Homo sapiens: one gene and its partners. The protein of the gene in region 5 purifies or fractionates together with the protein of the main gene of each other region. This does not show direct contact. Each region holds a gene or a part of one and is shown on either strand. Other genes may lie near its edges. The genes, in order: EDRF1, OGFOD1, FYB2, DNAJC13 and TBCE.

What was found.
Region 1: the proteins of TBCE (region 5) and EDRF1 purify together in Homo sapiens (affinity purification with mass spectrometry, with the first as the bait; one large-scale study listed by BioGRID). This does not show direct contact.
Region 2: the proteins of TBCE (region 5) and OGFOD1 fractionate together in Homo sapiens (co-fractionation; one large-scale study listed by BioGRID). This does not show direct contact.
Region 3: the proteins of TBCE (region 5) and FYB2 purify together in Homo sapiens (affinity purification with mass spectrometry, with the first as the bait; one large-scale study listed by BioGRID). This does not show direct contact.
Region 4: the proteins of TBCE (region 5) and DNAJC13 purify together in Homo sapiens (affinity purification with mass spectrometry, with the first as the bait; one large-scale study listed by BioGRID). This does not show direct contact.

Annotation. Positions count from the first base shown.
Region 1 is NC_000010.11:125,739,897-125,743,997, forward strand, and holds part of EDRF1 (erythroid differentiation-related factor 1), read left to right. Parts: intron 1-566; coding exon 567-755; intron 756-1,104; coding exon 1,105-1,305; intron 1,306-2,323; coding exon of another isoform or gene 2,324-2,343; exon of another isoform or gene 2,344-3,018; intron 3,019-3,161; coding exon 3,162-3,380; intron 3,381-4,101. UniProt on the Homo sapiens protein: Transcription factor involved in erythroid differentiation. Involved in transcriptional activation of the globin gene.
Region 2 is NC_000016.10:56,461,554-56,465,053, reverse strand, and holds part of OGFOD1 (prolyl 3-hydroxylase OGFOD1), read right to left. Parts: intron 2,521-3,500; coding exon 2,420-2,520; intron 1-2,419.
Region 3 is NC_000001.11:56,721,905-56,725,404, forward strand, and holds part of FYB2 (FYN-binding protein 2), read right to left. Parts: intron 1,778-3,500; coding exon 1,684-1,777; intron 1-1,683. UniProt on the Homo sapiens protein: Adapter protein that plays a role in T-cell receptor (TCR)-mediated activation of signaling pathways. Required for T-cell activation and integrin-mediated T-cell adhesion in response to TCR stimulation.
Region 4 is NC_000003.12:132,420,148-132,424,248, reverse strand, and holds part of DNAJC13 (dnaJ homolog subfamily C member 13), read right to left. Parts: exon of another isoform or gene 2,532-4,101; intron 1-2,531.
Region 5 is NC_000001.11:235,429,578-235,433,678, reverse strand, and holds part of TBCE (tubulin-specific chaperone E), read right to left. Parts: intron 2,975-4,101; coding exon 2,875-2,974; intron 734-2,874; coding exon of another isoform or gene 581-733; exon of another isoform or gene 447-580; intron 1-446. UniProt on the Homo sapiens protein: Tubulin-folding protein; involved in the second step of the tubulin folding pathway and in the regulation of tubulin heterodimer dissociation.

The DNA of each region.
Region 1 (4,101 bases), on a different chromosome or scaffold from region 5:
TAAAGAAGGTAGCGATGGGCTGGACTTTAAATAAAGAGTATTCCTTGTAGAGGAAACAGTAAACTAAGATGGGAGATAGGAAAAACAGGCATGTTTATAGGTGACAAGCAGTAACTTAACATTGGCTGATGGGTAGTAGGATGGACAAGTAGGAAGTGAGACTGAGAAACATGCAACTAGCTAAGTGGGGAGAAGCCGTTTTCATGTTTGAGGACAGGCTTTCACGCTGATCTAAGCTGTGCTTTAGGAAGGTAAACTTTGACAGGTTGACACATAGACTGGAAAAAGGAGACAGGTGTCACTCATGAGGTTAGCTATGTCAGTGACACTGGAAGAGAATGACAGAGTTGCCGATGTCAGGGAAGCAGAAGGCCTTAGAACTCCCAAGTGAGAGTCTTTTAACACGGCCATTTCACTCCAGTGTATTTAAGCAGTAAAGCATAGTATTTACCAGTCTTGTCACCTAAGTCTAGAGTGTTTCCATCAAGAAACAGAAAATATTTTTTGTGCATGAGACTTACAGTCAAATGAAATGTGCTGTCTTTTTTTTTCTCTCCATGTCACAGTGGGCTCCCTTCAGAAGGGCAATTATTCCAGTCAATCTGGAATGATCCCTGGCTCTTGGCAACATAAAATGAAACTTCAGCTGATTCTCAAGTCATCAAAGGCCTATTATGTTTTGTCCGATGCTGCCATGAGTCTTCAGAAATACGGAAGAGCATTACGATACATTAAATTAGCTTTGCAAAGCCATGGTAAGCCACTATAAATGAATATGTTTAATAGGCACTGGGAAGAGAGAACAGAGAAGGCATCTGAATCACAGTGGAAGTTTACTCCTATTTTTCTAGTAAATCTTTATTTTAAAATGACTGTTTCCAATCCTGTGTGTGTTACCTTCTATTTTAGTTTCTGCTCAGTGGTTTAACATCTCTTTGCTTTGAACTACATGAAGCCGTAATATGTATTGTTGGACCTAAAATAAACAGAATAGATACAGTGCTACAAAGCGTTCAGCTGGTAACACAGTTTCTTCATATTTCCTATGATCATTAATTTTTTTCTGCATTTGTGTTTTTTCTTCTTCCCTCCCTTTCTAAACAGATACTTATTGCTGCCTCTGCACCAATATGCTTTCCGAAGTGCTGTTGTTTCTCTCTCAATATTTGACACTTTGTGGTGATATCCAACTAATGCTGGCCCAGAATGCAAATAATAGAGCAGCACACCTTGAAGAGTTTCATTACCAAACAAAAGAAGACCAGGAGATCCTGCATAGCCTTCACAGAGAGTCCAGTTGCCAAGGTGTGCCACAGGCTTGGACCACGTGGTTCACAGTGGGACTGTGCAGTCTAGCTCATGCTTATTTGAGTATTCAGAAAAGGGGTAGAAATATTAGAGTTTTGATATTTGCTCTGTATTTATTTATTTATTTTTTGAGACGGAGTTTCGCTCTTGTTGCCCAAGCTGGAGTGCAATGGTGCAATCTTGGCTCACTGAAACCTCCGCCTCCCGGGTTCAAGCAATTCTCCTGCCTCAGCCTCCCAAGTAGCTGGAATTACAGGCATGCGCCACCATGCCCGGCTAGCCCACCTTGGCCTCCCAAGGTGCTGGGATTACAGGTGTGAGCCACCACGCCTGGCCTGCTGTTTTATTCATTTCCTAATTTTAAGATTAAGCATGATCTTGTGTATTTGTATAAAATGGTTTTTAAGTATTTTATAATTACTGTTTATATAACTAGAACTAAATATAAAGTAAGATATGAAGACAGTTGTGTCAACTTTTTATTTTATTTTATTTATTTATTTTTTTGAGACACAGTCTCGCTCTGCCACACAGGCTGGAGTGCAGTGGGGCAGTCTTGGCTCACTGCAACCTCCACCTCCTGGGTTCAAGTGATCCTCCCATCTCAGTCTCCCAAGTAGCTGGGACTAGTACATGCGCCACCACACCTAGCTAATTTTTGTATTTTTGTTAGAGACAGGGTTTCACCACGTTGCCCCAGACTGGTCTCAAACTCCTCAACTCAAGCGATCCTCCCACCTTGGCCTCCCAAAGTGCTGGGATTACAGGCACGAGCCACTGCACCCAGCCTTGTGTCAGCTTTTTACACTCTTCTTTTCATGAGGTTCTTCTAGGTAACACTTGTAGTCAGCTAACAAAGCCATAGGTTTCCTTTTGAAAGGTATAACAGTTGGTGAAGGAGGTTAATTAACCTTCTGAATGATTCCTTGGGGCTGAAATAAAGTGATCATTGTTTTTAAAGTTAGTTCATAGCCACCTGTCTTGCTTAATATGTCACTCTGTTTGGAATTGTCAGGCTTTAAAACTGGGAAGTAGAATAATCTGATCCGCAGCAGCGATATCCCTCCCTCTTACCTCAGCACAGTGTGTAACCACGCTGCCATTAACACAGTGAATGAAGTAAAAGATGAGTCTTCTGAAGGTGCTTCTGTAATGTCTCATGGGGTTGTTTTATTATGCTCTTAAATTGTTATACTGAATATTACTTGATGTTTGCCTCCCAGAGTTTTAGACAATTCATAGCTAGAGGAGTATACTGGGGGAGAGGGAAAAATGTGTTATTTTGTAATAGTTTTGCCCTTTCTTCCCCTCTCTCCGTCTTTCTCAAATAATCATGTTTTAATGTAGTAGGAAAGTCCTTGGTGTATTTTTACTACTCCCATCATAGCAATTTCAGTTAAATATTCTTTTTACTCTAGTCCCCACTAGATGGCATTTTTAATCTTCGAGGGCTTCTGTAGCAGCCTCTTCAGTGACTTAAAGTTAATATTGGGACATTATTTCAAGAACTATTTCCATTAGTTAAAAATAGCAACTTTACTTTGTATTAGTGGACAACTTTAGGTCCATTCTAATAAACAAGTGTACCTGGGAAAACCTGGGTCACAGAAATTGTTTGATATTCATAGGCAGGAAAATATTTTTATCCAACATTAATATCCCAAGAAATATAATTTTATAAATAAATAGATCTTTATTATGAAACTTAAATATTGTTGTATTGATTGAATCTTGGTATACTTACACTATATTGCATTTTTTATTACTTAGAATTTAGAATCTCAGGTTCATTTGGATACTGAGGAAGAAGGAATCACATGATTCGCATTGATGTATCCCTTTTTTCTTTTCAGGATTTGCATGGGCAACTGATTTGTCTACAGACTTAGAAAGTCAACTCTCTGTTAGTTGTAAATGTTATGAGGCTGCTAATGAAATCTTGCAGTTTAGTGACTTGAAAAGCCAAAATCCAGAACACTATGTACAAGTATTAAAGAGAATGGGTAACATTAGAAATGAAATTGGTGTGTTTTACATGAATCAGGCTGCTGCATTACAGAGTGAGAGACTAGGTGAGTATCTCTTTAGATTCCTCTCTATTGCTTGTTCTCTCAGAAAATTATGCTAATTTTGTATGAGTCAAGCAAAGAACTGTGGCACTTGATTTTATATCATAAAGAGGTGCTCTATTAGAGAACCTCTTATTATTCTTAAGAAATAGAATTAGGAACACATGATTTTCCCTTGGAATGAATTATTTCAATGTTCTTCATTCTTACTTTTGTACTCACTCCATCTGATCAATTCAGAAGCAAATGGGACATCCAGCCATGTGCCAGGCTCTATGTTGGATATGTAACTGGCTAAAATATGGTTCTCTCTTCATGTTGGGAAGCTAGATAGGAACACAAAGCCTCAAAATGCTGTGGATGAGTACCGACGAAGTATAATGGGAGACTGGGGAAATAAGACATTTATGGAGGTTATAAGTTAGAAGGCTTTTGGGAAAGTGTTGTTGAGCAGGGTGATGCAGGATGTGTAGAGCATCAGCCGGCAAATGTGAGGAAAGGAGGGCACTCCAGACCAAGGAGGCGGTGTGAGGAAGAAGCCAGGGATCTCAAAGGGTGCAAGTGTACGTTTAGAGGGAGCAAGAGGCCTGTGTGAGGAAGATGTGGGATAGTGGGTAAGTAAGATGTGGGATGGCGTAGTAAGATGTGGGATGGTGTAAGTAAGATGTGAGATGGTAAACCATTTGGGCCCATGTTGAATTTGAGTTCACTATGGAACATGTAT
Region 2 (3,500 bases), on a different chromosome or scaffold from region 5:
TATTCCAGCCTGGGCAACAGAGTGAGAGACAGTCTAAAAAAAAAAAAAAAGAAATACATTCCAAATGTAAATGTATGTGTGTGCATCCACATGTGTATATACATGTATACAGATATTCACCACCTCTTCAAACTGAAGGGGTCTGGGAGCAGTGACACCCTAATAGCAAAGACACTTAAGAGTCCAGATCTTGATTGTTAAGTATCTTTCTTCACTAAAAGGAACCAGGATTCTTTGGAAGAATGGCCAACTCCAGGTCATTCTAGGACGTTGGCATGGAAAATACAAAGATAAGCTTGGAAAATCTTGTTTTGCAGAAAGTAGGAAAAAAAAAAGAATGATGGGGACATAGCAAAAGAACGCAGAAGTCAGTTTGACGGGGTTCTCCTTGATAAATCAGGGACAGTATGAGCATCAATATAATGATAGTAACTGGTAACAGCTCATTACACAACCAGCAATCCATAAATCCATACCAATATAAACGAATGAATAAATAAATCAGGAGAAAGGTCTTCTCTAGAGTGGAATGACAATAAATGTAGAGAAATGATTGTGTTATAAAATCACCATCTGGCAACCTTCATGGTAATAATTTAGCAAGAAACATCAGAGAATGCTAAAATAAGCAAATCGAACTTTGATGAGAAATGGGATATTTACATAATCTTAAAGTATCTCCCCACAAAATATATACTGATAGGGAAAAAGAACAGTGGAAAAACCTGATGTCAGCCACCACATTAATCAAGTGATCCAAGTTCATATCACTAATAATGTGACACACTGAAACCATGCACCACCTGATACAGTGAAAAGAATACAGGATTAATTTCTGTAATCCTGCCAAAAATATATGGCCTGAATCTAATCATGAGAAAACATCAGACAATCCCAAACTGAAGCAAGTTTTCCAAAATAACTCATCTGTACATCTTCAAAAGCATAAAGATCATGAAAGTCCAGGAAAGATGGAGGGGCTGTTCTAGATTGAGGGAGGCTGAAGAGACAATATTATAACTAAATGCAACATGCAATCCTGGACTGGGTCCTTTTGCTATAAAGGACCAAATAATGAAACCTGAATGGAGCCTGAGGATTAGATAATCCATTGATGTGGAATAAGGCATCAACGTAAATTTCCTGATTCTGATGGTTTATGATTATCATGTAGGAGAATGTCCTTGTAGAAATTACTGAAGTATTCAGGGGTCATAGAACATCATGCCAACAACTTACTCTCAAGTAAAATAGGAAAAAATAAATTATTTGTACTATGCTTGCCACTTTTCTGCAAGTTTGAAATTACTTCAAAGTAAAAAAAAAAAAAAAATACTGGCATGGTAGCTCACACCTGTAATCCCACTATTTTGGGAGGCAAAGGCAGGCGGATCACTTGAGGTCAGGAGTTTGAGACCAGCCTAGCCAACTGGTGAAACTCCATCTCTACTAAAAATACAAAAATTAGCCAGGCATTGTGGCATATGCCTGTAATCCCAGATACTCAGGAGGCTGAGGCAGGAGAATCACTTGAACCCGGGAGGTGGAGGATGCAGTGGGCCGAGATCACGCCACTGCATTCCAGCCTGGACAACAGAGGGAGACTCCGTCTCAAAACGAACCAACGAACCAACAAACCAAAAAAAAAAAAAAAAAAAAAAAAAAAAAACCCAAAAAAGAAATGACATGGCAGTAAATGAAGATACATGATATGGCTTTTCCTATGTATCACCAAGTCATCCTCTAAAAGTTGTGAGCCATCTATACTTCCAGGACAGTGTATGAGAGTACACTCAAAGAATTATTTTATTTAGTAAAATTTAAAAAAGAAAAAACCTTTTCCTTCTGGGTGAAAAACCAAGCTTGTATCCAAAAAAACCATTTATATGCTCAGAAAGAGAAATGGAAGGATGCACCCCAAACTGGTGACAATAGGTACCTCTGAAGAGAAGAGGGAGCAGGGAGAAGGTGAAGAAGGCTATCATGGTTTACACCATATACCTGCAATATTGTTTGATTTTTTTTCCTTTAAGAATGCATTCACTTATTGCCTTCAAAATAAAAAAGAGAAGGGAGAATGGCATTGAAGGAGATGGTTGTTCCTTAGGAAGTCTAAGAATAGAGTTTATATATCACTCTGAATTTCTTGATATTGTATGTACAGTTGGTGTGTATGTATGTTATGGGGATTTTGCTGAAAATATGGTCAGTAGCTTTCATCATATTCTGAAAGACAACCACTGCTTATGCCTTCCAATAAGGTGGGTATTTCTGTCTATGAACTGGGTCTTTATCAGGAAGATCCGGATGCTTTGCAGGGACATTCAGTTGAGTGTTTTGGTACACAGATACCATCTCTCCATTAATGCTGAGTTAAAGCCTTTATATCTTACAGACACCAGGCCTTTATCTTCCTTACCAGTGAATTCATATTTAGCACAGGACATGTCAATGGTTGATTCCAGGTCAATTTTAGAAATATCAGAAAGCCAGGACCGGAAATCTTCAAACAGAATTTTCCTAGAAATGTAAACAAAAGATAACTTGTTATGCCACAGTGTGGGATCTAGGTCACAACTGTTTGGATCTAGGCCACAACTTTTCTTTCCTGGAGATCACATTGTATTCAAGAGATCCATTCTCCGATCTCATTTGAGACATTCTGAGAAATGTTTCTCAGTTCAAATTTGCATAGTTTAAGTCTAATGTTCCCAGAAAAATAAATGTAAGTCTCTACCTACATTATATTTGTTATTTTTTGTTCTAATGGTTCATGTTTTCTCAGTATTTTCTTTCTCCTAAATTTAAAGTATGCCCTGTCATGGCAGCAGTTTGGCCTTTGTCATAACAACTCATCACACCAGTGGTCTAGTCCAAGTTACTGATTTTCAGACAAGTTTTTCAGCACTAAAATGGAAAGCTCAACTGTTTTTCTTTTCTTTTCTTTCTTTTTTTTTTTTTGAGATAGAGTCTTGCTCTGTTGCCCAGGTTGGGGTACAGCAGTGTGATCTTGGCTCATTGCAACCTCTGCCTCCTGGGTTCAAGTGATTCTCCTGCCTCAGTCTCCCGAGTAGCTGGGACTACAGGGATGCACCAGCACGCCCGGCTAATTTTTATATTTTTAGTAGAGATGGGGTTTTGTCATGTTGGCCAGGCTGGTCTCCAACTCCTGACCTCAAGTGATCCGCCTGCCTCGGCCTCCAGTGCTGGGATTATAGGCATGAGCCACAGCACCTGGCCTCAACTGTTTTTCTTTACACACTTTACTTCACTTCCAATGCCAAATGTGTGGGCTTATCCCCCCACACTGACCAATTCTCTGACACCAGCTGAGTGTCTTAAAATTCAATTCAATTCTGACACTATCTACCAGGCATTAATAAAGGTTAAGGGCTTAGTCCCATGAGACTGCCCCCAGTGTGCCCTCTCCCCCAACCCCACTTCAGATACTGATTACAAGTTCAAGTTGTGACCCATATGCTTCTAACCAAACAGTTATA
Region 3 (3,500 bases), about 180 Mb from region 5:
CCCCAGTGCCTGGCACAAGTGAGCTATACAACGTTTTATGATTTGAGCTGGACAAAAATTATTGAAATGGCCTATCAAGGAAACCCACTACAGGTAATAAGAATGGAATTATACACATATACAGGAAATGGAATATCTTTCACACATGAAACAATAAAAAACACACAGAGGTGGAAAAAAGGATTGGATGGAATATAAGGGTCTTTTCAACAAGTAATTGCCTCACTGTTGTTTTTCAATTAATCAAGTAACATCAGGGTTGCAGTAGATAATAACATATCACAATTTCTAGATATAGTAACCCCAATCAGCTTTGGTTCAAACAGGAATTATCAGTGATGATGAGAGATTTGTGTACATTCCTATTTTAGTTCATCTCAAAAAATATTTTATGCATGTTTACAAAATGCTAAGCAGCCTTATTATGCTCTGCACATGGATATAAACATAAATAAAATAACCATTGTCCTCTAGGAGCTCATAGTGTAATATGATGAACATGTAATTCCAATTACTTTAATGTGTGATAAGCTAGAGATTGCTCAAGTATATAGGTAAACAGAAGAAGAGTAATTTATTTAATTAGAAGATTTGGGCAAGTCTTCCTGGAGAAGAGGAGATGCCTCGACTGGGTCTTGATAAATGAACGAGCTAGTCAGATACAGAAAAGTGCAAAGGTGTACCAGAGAGTTGGAATAGACCAAGGAAGCACTTAGAGGGATGAAATAGCAAGACAAAGATAGAGGTGGAGGTTCATTCGAGGGACAGAACTATGAGCAGTTTGTTGCCAAAGCAGAAAGTGCAAGGCAAAGAGTGGCAAGAGATAAAGCCAGGAAGATATGCAAAGATCAGGACATAAAGAGCTTTCTATGCCATGTTAAGAAGCCTAAACTTTAACCATTTTGCAAGGGGGAATTTTTGAAAAATTTTAGGCAGCATAGTGACTATGAGGAGGATGCACACTTTGTCTCTCTCAGTCCAGTGTCTAGCACATGGAAGGTGCTCAGTATGTTTCATAGTTAATAATCCTCACTTTGACAATATATGAAATCAGGGAAGTTTGAGCTTTAGAATAATGAAAAAATGTCCCATGGACTCTTAATAACAGAATAAGAAGGCAGAGAGCTTCGGATGCTGCATCATTCATTTGTTCATTTTGTCATTCATTTGCTTGTTTATTTAGGCATTCATTTACCAAACACTGTGCTTACAGTTTTATGTCAGGCCCTGGGGAACAAACTTGAATGAGACAGGGTTTCTTTCTCAAAAAGGACTCAAGAGATTAATTAAAGATTCACAGACACACACACACACACACACGCACACACACACACAAATGCTTTAATACAACTAATCAGTGTTACAAAAGACGTGTAAAATAGACATATAAAATGTGCTGAAGGAGTAACTTAACCTGGACGAGTTAGGGAGGAGTGGGTGACATTTGAACAGAGCCTTCAAGAACAACTTAGGAGTTTTTCCAGGAAGAAGGAATAGCATGGACAGACATAACAATATAGAAATGTACCAGGAAAAAATAGGAATGAAATGCTGGCTTTTTGTGTCAAAGATCATGTCTGTATCTCAGAGAGGCAGAGGCACAGCATACTTACAGATTTTTTTTTTAAATGAAAGCTCCTAGCTGTTAATATTGCTAATTTTTACCTTCAGAAGAGAACGTACCTTAAACCTTTCTCTAAATAGTTTTTCTTCTCTTTTCATTCTGTTCTTTTCTAAGTTTTGCTTCTTGGTTTTGAAGAAATTTCTAGGAGAGAAACTAGCAAGAAATGTGCAGGTAGGGTAAAACGTACTATAATAAAACTTTTTAAGTTTCTGAGCCTACGAAGTCACTTCATTTCAGGATAAATTCAGGTATAATTTTTTGTGATCATAATTTTATATAAAATAATACACAAAGTCACGCATCTGTATTTGTGTATATGTACACACACGTATGTAGGTTCATAATACAAATACACACATATATTTCCATTAGAGCAAATTGTCAAACAACTGATCAGGGTAATGTCAATTGCTTTTCGCTACAATTAAAAAAATATTTTTGATGGCAAGATAATAACGGGATAAAATCACATTGGTTAAACAAATGAAGGTAAACAAGAAACTTGTCTGAATGAGACTTAGAGATATAACTTTTTCTTTTTTTTAGGTTTAGGAAATTTATAAATGTTCCCATTCACCTTCAGACTATTTAATGGAAACCAGTAAGAATAAGTAAGCAGCTTACTTTGTGTGGTTTTCTAAGTTGTTAAACCTAATTGGGGATCACAAGTCTACATGGTTCAATCGAAGAGCTCTCCAGTTTGCTGAATGTTTTGGAGGATGAATACCATTAAGAAAATAAAGAAAGATGCCACAAAACGTGTGAGAATTTCAGCACTTAAAAATAAATAACCCTACAGAAGAAGCTGATTATACTCTTAGTCCTCCCTCTTGCTCTTCACATGAGATTTGGTTCTTCTTTTTAGCAGTTCAATGTATTGACAGAAGTAAAAAAGTCAACCAAGTCCTGTTAGTCTTATTCCTAAGTGTCCCCTACATTTGTTTATTTCCAAGATTACAGCCACTGCCATATTTCAGATTATCACTACTTATTGCCTGAGATGCCATCTTCGTCTTACCTCACCTTCCTCAAATTCATTGGTGTATCTGCCTGCAGAGTCATTTTTCTAAAATTTAGTTATGTCACTCTCTTGCTTAAAACCTTTCAATTTCTCTCTATTGCCAATAGGATAAAGTCTAAATTCATTAGCATTTTATAATCTGGCCTGATCATCTTTCCAGCTTCATCAGCTGCCCATTTCCCTACACATTACAATGTCTACTTGGGTCATCTTAGAAAGTGGGTTATCCTTTTCATGCTGTTATACATGGGATACTGCTATGGTTTGGATATTTGATTCCTCCAAACCTCATGTTGACATTTGGTCCCTAATGTTGGAGGTGGGGCCTAATGGGAGATGTTTGGGTCATGGGGTTGTCTCCCTCATGAATGGCTTGCTACTGTCCTCTTGGTAATGAGTGAGTTACCACTCTCACAGTTTCCTAGAGCCTGGCATCTCATTTGTTAAAATGAGCCTGGCACCTCACTTGTCTGTCTCTCTTCCTTTATAGCCATGTGATGTCTGCACATTCTCCTTCACCTTCTGCCATGAGTAGAAGCAGCCTGAGGCCTTCACCGAAGCAGATGCCAATGTCATGCTTCTTGTACAGTCTACAGAACCATGAACTAAATAAACCTCTTTTCTTTATAAATTACCCAGCCTCAGGTGTTCCTTTATAGCAACACAAACAGACTAAGACAGATAACCTTAGCCAACTTTTCTTTAAACTTGCCATCATCTTTGATTGATAAAAGAATAATAAAAGGGTTGAACTAATACTTCTTACTTACTGTTAGAATACATTATGGTAGAAATCATTTTAAAAATGATACAGAAATTGATACAGAAATAACTAGCCTTACAGTAATGTTTTCT
Region 4 (4,101 bases), on a different chromosome or scaffold from region 5:
AAAGATGTATTACTATGACCCTTCCCTTTCCAAAGCTTAAAAATGCCTTAAAATACTCACCTGAAAGCTTTCTTTCCAGAAACATGTTCACTTAAGCAATGCTTTGAAATCATTGCTATTGATCATTTACATATTTTTAGTTTATACACATTATTGTAACTTTATAGACCTAATTTCTATTTCATTTTATCTTTGAAGCATAACCTGGCTTATGCAAGAACAAACTATACTATTTCTGTAAGGTCTTCAGCTTATCAACTTATTAAGCTTATCAGCTTATTAAGGCACTTAATAATCATGCTCTACTATGGTAAACAGGCCCTGAAATGGGCAAAAGAAATTTTTAGCAGCCATATTTTAACTTGTTGCTGTTTTTCCTATCATTACAGTAAATGCATAATGCGGGACTAAATTTCCTAAGCTTTTAACACATACAACTTGAAGACAGTTTTACAGAAAGCATCCTGAAAACCCAAACACTGTTCTTTTTATACTATTAAAAGACAAAAGTTTAATTTGCTACAATTTCCCCTTCACTCAATACAAAATAGCAAAAACATACATTTCTAGTTTAGTTCTGAAATATCCCTATTATTCCTACCTCTTCTGTGGCGCTTTACAGTTTATAGAACACTACCAAATTATCTTAAAAAAGCAAAGTTTCACTTTTAAAATTAAGCCCATTAGTGCTAAGATTTGGGGGGAAAATGGCTTATCTGCTCTAAGATTTGATAAACATTCAAAATACATTCTGTAGCTTGACTAGAAGTTTGAGGAGAGAAACCCCATAGCCTTAGATGACTAAGGAATACAATAAAAGTGAGAACACCATGTATAAGCGTTTAAATGTATTACAGAATACATGAAATATTAGAGAACATCTCCTCCATTCATAACCTCACCAACCCTTCCATTAAGTTGTGGCAACTAGAGCTGGCAAAAATCAAAGCGTCGAAATAATTTTTTTTAAGAGACAGGGTCTTCCTTTGTCACCCAGACTGAAACGCAGCAACACAATCATAGCTCACTGTAATCTCAGTCTCCTGGGTTCAAGCAATCCTCCTGCCTCAGCCTCCCGAGCACACGTCACCACAGCCAGCTAGTTATTTCATTTTTTGATGAGACGGGGTTGCTCAAGCTAGGTTGGAGCTCCTGGCCTCGAGTGATCCTCCCGCCTCAGCCTTCCAAGTGCTGGGATTACACGTGTGATTATTGTGCACCCAGCTAAAATAATTCTGGATTGCTTTAGGGGTTTTGTTTTCTATCTGATAATCAAAATATCAAACTCTTATTAATCCATTGCAAAGAGATATTACCACTGGGCATGTGCTAAATATGTGACTAGGCAGTGTTCTTCTAAGGGCAACTTGAGTGCTTAAACTGTAAAATTCCACTGACTTTAAAGCTCACTCTTTTTCACAAGTAGTCCATGAAAGTACAAGTAAAACTCCCATATGTCGACTATTGAATAAAGAGCATCTGAAAAGAATTACTAGCAAGCTATATGGTTTTATTGACTGAACCACACCTAAATGTACCTTTGCACAGGTAACTATCTTAAATTAGCAAAGATGATCATAACCATGTTGGTTTAAACTATTTGTTACAAAGAAATCTAACTCAGTTACTCTCAAAGGAGTTCCTATGATTAAGAATCACTCCACATAACAAGAAGTGTTATAAATTGGCATATGCTGGGTATGTGAACACTGCTGAAACAGAAAAAATATGTTGAAAACCACTGATTAAAATTTTGAACTAAAGTAATGGTTGGGCTAGGATGCCATCCCATCTGAGGCACTATGACTGGGAGCACTACTAGCATTTAGTGGATGAGACTAGATATTCAACATACATTACAGTCCCAAAGATAAGTACCATCCACACCATACGACTTTCAAGTGTCCAAGTGAGCCAGGTATGGTGGCTCACACCTGTAATCCCAGCATTCTGAGAGGCTGAGGTGGGAGGATTGCTTGAGCTCAGGAGTTTGAGACTAGCCTGGGCAACATAGTGAGACCTCGTCTCTACTAAAAATAATAATAATAAAAAAAAGTTAGCTGGGCATGGCGTGCCTATGGCTCCAGATACTAAGGAGGCTAAGGTGGGAGGATCGCTTGAGCCCAGGAGATCAGGGCTACAGTGAGCTATGATCGTGTCACTGCATTCCAGCCTGGGCAACAGAGTGAGGTCTGAAAAAAGAAAAAAAAAAAGGAAAAAGAAAAAAGTCCAGAAGTCCAAATGCTTAGTTGGTTAGTCATGTAGGCAAAAACCTATTTATAATGAATGAATCCCAGACTCTAATTGTTTTATATATAACTCACCAAGTACATTTTGCAGGGTTTAATATACAGAGATTTTTCCAGGAATGTGGCTGCAATGTAAATTAAGAGATTATACTTTATTAACCCTGTTCTTTTCTGACAATGCTAATAATCTCAATTGTGGTATTTGAGTCACCAATGTGACAAATCTGTAGACATCAACATTTCTGTCAAAAATCAAAATGGGCCAGGCATGGTGGCTCACACCTGTAATCCCAGCACTTTGGGAGGCCTGGGTGGGTGGATCACTTGAGGTCAGGAGTTCGAGACCAGCCTGGGCAACATGGTGAAACTCTGTCTCCTAAAAATACAGAAAAAAAAAAAAATCAGCCCAGCATGGTGGCAAGCGCCTGTAGTCCCAGCTACTCAGGAGGCTGAGGCAGAGGTTGCAGTGAGCCAAGATCGTGCCACTGCACTCCAGCCTGGGTGACAGAGCAAGATTGTCTCTCACACACACAAAAAAAATCTCAAAATGATTCCATGTAAAGATACAAGCCTCTGACACGTCCTTTGTGTATTTTGGTATAATCATACTTAACTATTTACATATTGAAATGCATATAGTCAATTCTGCTATAATGCTTTCTTGATCATGTGAATTTTAACAGGATTGGTGTATTACTGAACAATTTGAGCATAATGAAAATGTCACATTTGCTTATAGTGATTCTGTCCCAACACTAAGTGAACGCAGAAAATTGTACCCAACTGAGTCATGCAGGAATTCACAAAATACACACACACACTTCAGGTGGTCAATGAACCACATACATTCACATATATGTTACTAATTTTCCACTCCATCTTATAACTTTTTTTCCTTCTACTACTTCACAGTAATTCAGAAACTATAACTCCATCCAATGCTCACTGCATTGTTTGCTCAAACTTTTTCAAGGCAAAATGTCATTATTATAGTATTTAACATGTACAAAACAGTTCTTTTTAAGCTCCTATCTTTTTAAAAAATGTATAATGATGACTGCTCTTTCTCTTGGGAGTTTTTTTCATGGGCCTCATAATTTTTGGTTAAAAGCTGGACATGTTGTGTAGGAGTAGAGATTGAGGTAATTTTTATGACTGGAAATGAGCACGCCTGTTCTTTGTGAGGCCTTTGGTGAAGGGTTTGTGTTAATCTGGTTAGGAGTTGGACTTAGTTTATGATTTGTTTTTGCCATAGTTATCCTCAGTGTATTACAGCCTTCATGAATCTGCAGAACAGTTTGTCTCTCTGGTGGGCGATGGTTTACTAGAGCAATGCCTGTTTGATTCTTTGTGTTGTGCCTCTTTGCATAATCTTGTTCCTTTCCTAGTAGTATTTTGTGGGTTACTTGTTACTGAAAGCTTCTTAGCTTGGTGGCAGGGGGTTGGGGGTGGGGGATACAGTCTGATGTTCTGATTAAGTCTAAGTCAAACACTGTGTTCCTGAATCTCAGGAGGGCAGCACTCTCGGTTCTGTTGACCACTCCCGACTGCAGTTTTGGGCTCAGGGCCCCTCCTCCAGGCATAAGATTCTCTCCCACTTCTCATCTACCCCCTGAATGTTCACCAATGGGGCCAACAGAGATACCCTTCTCCCCAGAGATTAAAGCTTTTTTCCATAGAAGAGGCAGAGGGGAAGAATCACAGCAGTTTCTTGACCCTCTTAAAAGTTCTGTTGCTGTTCCTCTCCCTCTCAATCTGCACAGCAGACTCACCCAGGGTTCTTTCCAGTCTTTTCTAGTAGACCCAGGGAGGTTTGTGGATAAGAGTTTGCAAGATTGTGCATTCAGCTTTC
Region 5 (4,101 bases):
CTCTCCAATCAAAAGTTCTTTGAGATCGGGCACAGTGAGTTCATGCCTGTAATCCCAGCACTTTGGGAGGCCAAGGCAGGTGGATCACTTGAGGTCAGGAGTTGGAGACCAGCCTGGCCAACATGATGAAACCCATTACCACTAAAAATACAAAAATGGCCGGGTATGGTTGCACACGCCTGTAATCCCAGCACTTTGGGAGGCTGAGGCAGACAGAATGCTTGAGGTCGGGAGTTTGAGAACAGCCTGGCCAACGTGGTGAAAACCCATCTCTACTAAAAATACAAAAAATTAGCCAGGCGTGGTAGTGCACGTCTGTAATCCCAGCTACTTGGGAGGCTGACGCAGGAGAATCATTTTGGCCCAGGAGGCAGAGGTTGCAGTGAGCCAATATCACACCACTGCACTCCAGCCTAGGCAACAGAGCAAGACTCCATCTCAAAAACCAAATAGTTGAGATGACGCCCTTGGCCATGGCCAATTAGAGAATGGAATCATCTGACTCACCCATCCTGCAAACAGTCCTGCAGATAGCACAGGTTTTAAACTGGCTGTTAAACCTGCCCGTGACCTCACTGGCCTTGGCCACGTTCATCCGCATGGATGTGTGGTCCTTGGCACTGATGATGCAGTTGCTGGTGGAGCATTTCTGCAGCACGCACAGATCCACGAACTTGCTGGCGTCTTTCTGCATGTCGAGACCGTGCCTGCTGCCACCACACTGCGCATGAGCCTAATTTTTTTTTTTTACAAAAAAAAAAATTACAAAAAATTATTATATATTATATAATTATGTATAATAATATATAATATATATATAGCATCTACAGGATCTCTCTATGTTGCCTAGGTGGGTCTTGAACTCCTGGCCTCAAGTGATTCTCCTGCCTGGGCCTCTCAAAGTGCTGGCTGGAATTATAGGCGAGAGCCACCATGACCAGCCTCACCAACTATTTCTAAATTTTCTCACTGGAACTTTACTGCCATCTCCACCACTTCAATTTCTGTGTGCCCTTCCTAGTTTATTTGGAGGGTGAGATGCGTCTTGCTCTGTCACCCAGGCTGGAGTGCAAAGGTGCAATCCTAGCTCACTGCAGCCTCAAACTCCTGGGCTCAAGTGATCCTCCCACCTCAGCCTCCCAAAGCGCTGGGATTGCAGGTGTGAGCCCCAGTGCCAGTGTCTGGCCCCTTCTTGTCTTCCAGCTACATCTACACCTTGAGAGGGAGTAAGCGCCTCACAGAGGAGGGGCCCTAGGAAAGAGGCTCCATGGCCACGGGCATATTAAGGGCACAAGGGGCCCACCTGTCTCTCACTGAGTGGCCTCTGTGGCACTTCCTGGGTGAACATGGCTGGGAATGTATTTCTACACCCTTGGTTTGAAAGTGGAATGCCCAAGCTGGGCACAGTGGCTCACGCCTGTAATCCCAGCATTTTGGGAGGCTGAGACAGGCAGATCATTTGAGGTCAGGAGTTCAAGACCATCCTGGCCAACATGGTGAAACCCTGTCCCTACTAAAAATACAAAAATAAGCTGGGCATGGTGGCAAGCGCCTGTAATCCCAGCTACTTTGGAGGCTGAGGCTGGAGAATTGCTTGAACCCAGGAGACGGAGGTTGCAGTGAGCCGAGATCATGCCACTGCACTCCAACTTGGGCAACAGAGCGAGACTCTGTCTCAAGAAAAATAAATAAATAAAAATGAAAGTGGGCTGGGCACGGTGGCTCACGCCTGTAATCCCAGGACTTTAGCAGGCCGAGGTGGGTGGATCACCTGAAGTCAGGAGTTCGAGACCAGCCTGACCAACATGGAGAAACTCTGTCTCTACTAAAGATACAAAATTAGCTGGGCATGGTGGTACATGCCTGTAATCCCAGCTACCTGAGAGGCTGACGCGGAAGAATCACTTGAACCTGGGAGGCGGAGGTTGCAGTGAGCCGAGATTGCGCCACTGCACTCCACCTTGGGCAACAGAGTGAGACTCTGTCTCAAGAAAAATAAATAAATAAAAATGAAAGTGGGCTGGGCACGGTGGCTTACACCTCTAATCCCAGCACTTTGGGAGGCCGAGGCGGGCAAATCACTTGAGGTCAGGAGTTCGAGACCAGCCTGACCAACATGGAGAAACCATGTCTCTACTAAAAATGCAAAATTAGCTGGGTGTGATGGCACATGCCTGTAATCCCAGCTACTTGGGAGGCTGAGGTGGGAGAATCGCTTGAACCTGGGAGGCAAAGGTTGCAGTGAGCCAAGGTTGCACCATTGCACTCTAGCCTGGGCAACAAGAGTAAAACTCCGTCTCAAAAAAAAAAAAAAAGAAAGTGGAATGCTCTGGGTGTGTGAAGTCAGTACACCTCAGACAGGAAATAGTACTGCCAGATATAAGTCCCAAATGCTGCTGTGCCAAGGACCCACAAGTCTACTTTTGAGCCCGGCTGTATAAAATGAACAGTGGATTCCAAGAGCCGAACTTCTAACAAGAAAAGTATGTGAGAACCTTTCTGCTGCTTGGCTTCTGTTCTAAAAAAAACTAACAGGAAAACTCAGGAAGCTAGTCAATAGCCAACACTACGGCTTTTTGAAGCTCAGCACATACTGGTTCATACCATAACGGAGCGCCACTGTTTATAAAGGCACCAGAACAAGTCAAAATGAGCTGAGATAGGACATGGATTTCCAGATGCAAAACTCAACTATGATGCTCTTTTAACTCGTTTTTATAAGGCACTTTAATGAATCTTGTTATCTATTAATAGATACTGGGATGATTTAAATGAAGCCACAGTTGTACTATTAAACTGTACTAACAATTCTCTATTAAACCAAACATTTTTAATTGCTTATTAATGTGTAATAAAACAAAGAAATATGATTACCTCAGCCCACGTTATTCCTGTTTGATTGAGGACTAAAACCTTCAGTACAGAAAGCGTTCCAGTTAATACTGAACCGGAGGGAAATTTTAGTTTATTTTCACTGTGTAGAAAAAAAAGATACAATGTACTTATTTCTATACAGTAAACCCAACTGAAATAGTTGTTGAAAGCAACAATCTGGGTTTTAATCTAAGGGGTTTGATTTGTTTCAATCTTAAAATGGAATTATATTTTAAAAATCACTTTTTTAATGATTCAAGTGAATCAAGACTACCTAATTTTTAACATTTACAACATACAACTTTTTGGTATCAGCTGTGTAAAGATGCTTTCACAGGATTAGGGCACCTGTATGCGGCTGTAGGCTTCCTAAACCCAAAACTCAGGCATTTGCAAGGTGAGCTTCCAGCTTCACAAGATATGGCTCTGGATACTGCAAAACAAAGTCCCGTTCTCCAGAGTCTTACTGATACACTGAATCATGGGCTAGAATTTTGCTTCTCTAAACATAGAGTCTGCCCTTTGGCTATGAGGATGGATGAAATTATTGCCCCTTAAATTATTTCTCAAAACCCTAATCTCAGAAAGTATTCAATCCTGACAGTCACTTTGAAAGACGATACTATTAAAAAACACAAGCCCGTATTTCCAGAAGATGAGACACCATGGGTTGAATTGCCCCCGTTTGCTCTATTTGGGAGCACAACTCATTCAGGCCTGTCTACCGGCTTTACTGTACACTCACATGTCTATGCAAAAATGGTTCAAGAATGAAAGGGGAAACCTGTGCTGGGCACGGTAGCTCACGCCTGTAATCCCAGCACTTTGGGAGGCCAAGGCAGATGGATCACCTGAGGTCAGGAGTTCAAGACTAGCCTGGCCAACATGATGAAACCCCGTCTCTACTAAAAATATAAAAATTAGCCGGGTGTGGTGGTAGGCACCTCTAGTCCCAGCTACTTGGGAGGCTGAGGCAGGAGAATCACTTGAATCTGGGAGGCGAAGGTTGCAGTGAGCCAAGATCATACCACTGTACTCCAGCCTGGGCAACAGAGTGAGACTCTGCCTCAAAAAAAAAAAAATGGAGGAAGCCTGGCTAAGCCCTTGGAAAGTTAGGTTCTGAGATTAAAACAAATTAAATATTCAGGAAGGCCTAGAAAAGTGTGACATTAGTAAAATAGGTAGATTAATGAAAAATCCTTATCAAAACAGAATTAAACAGTATCC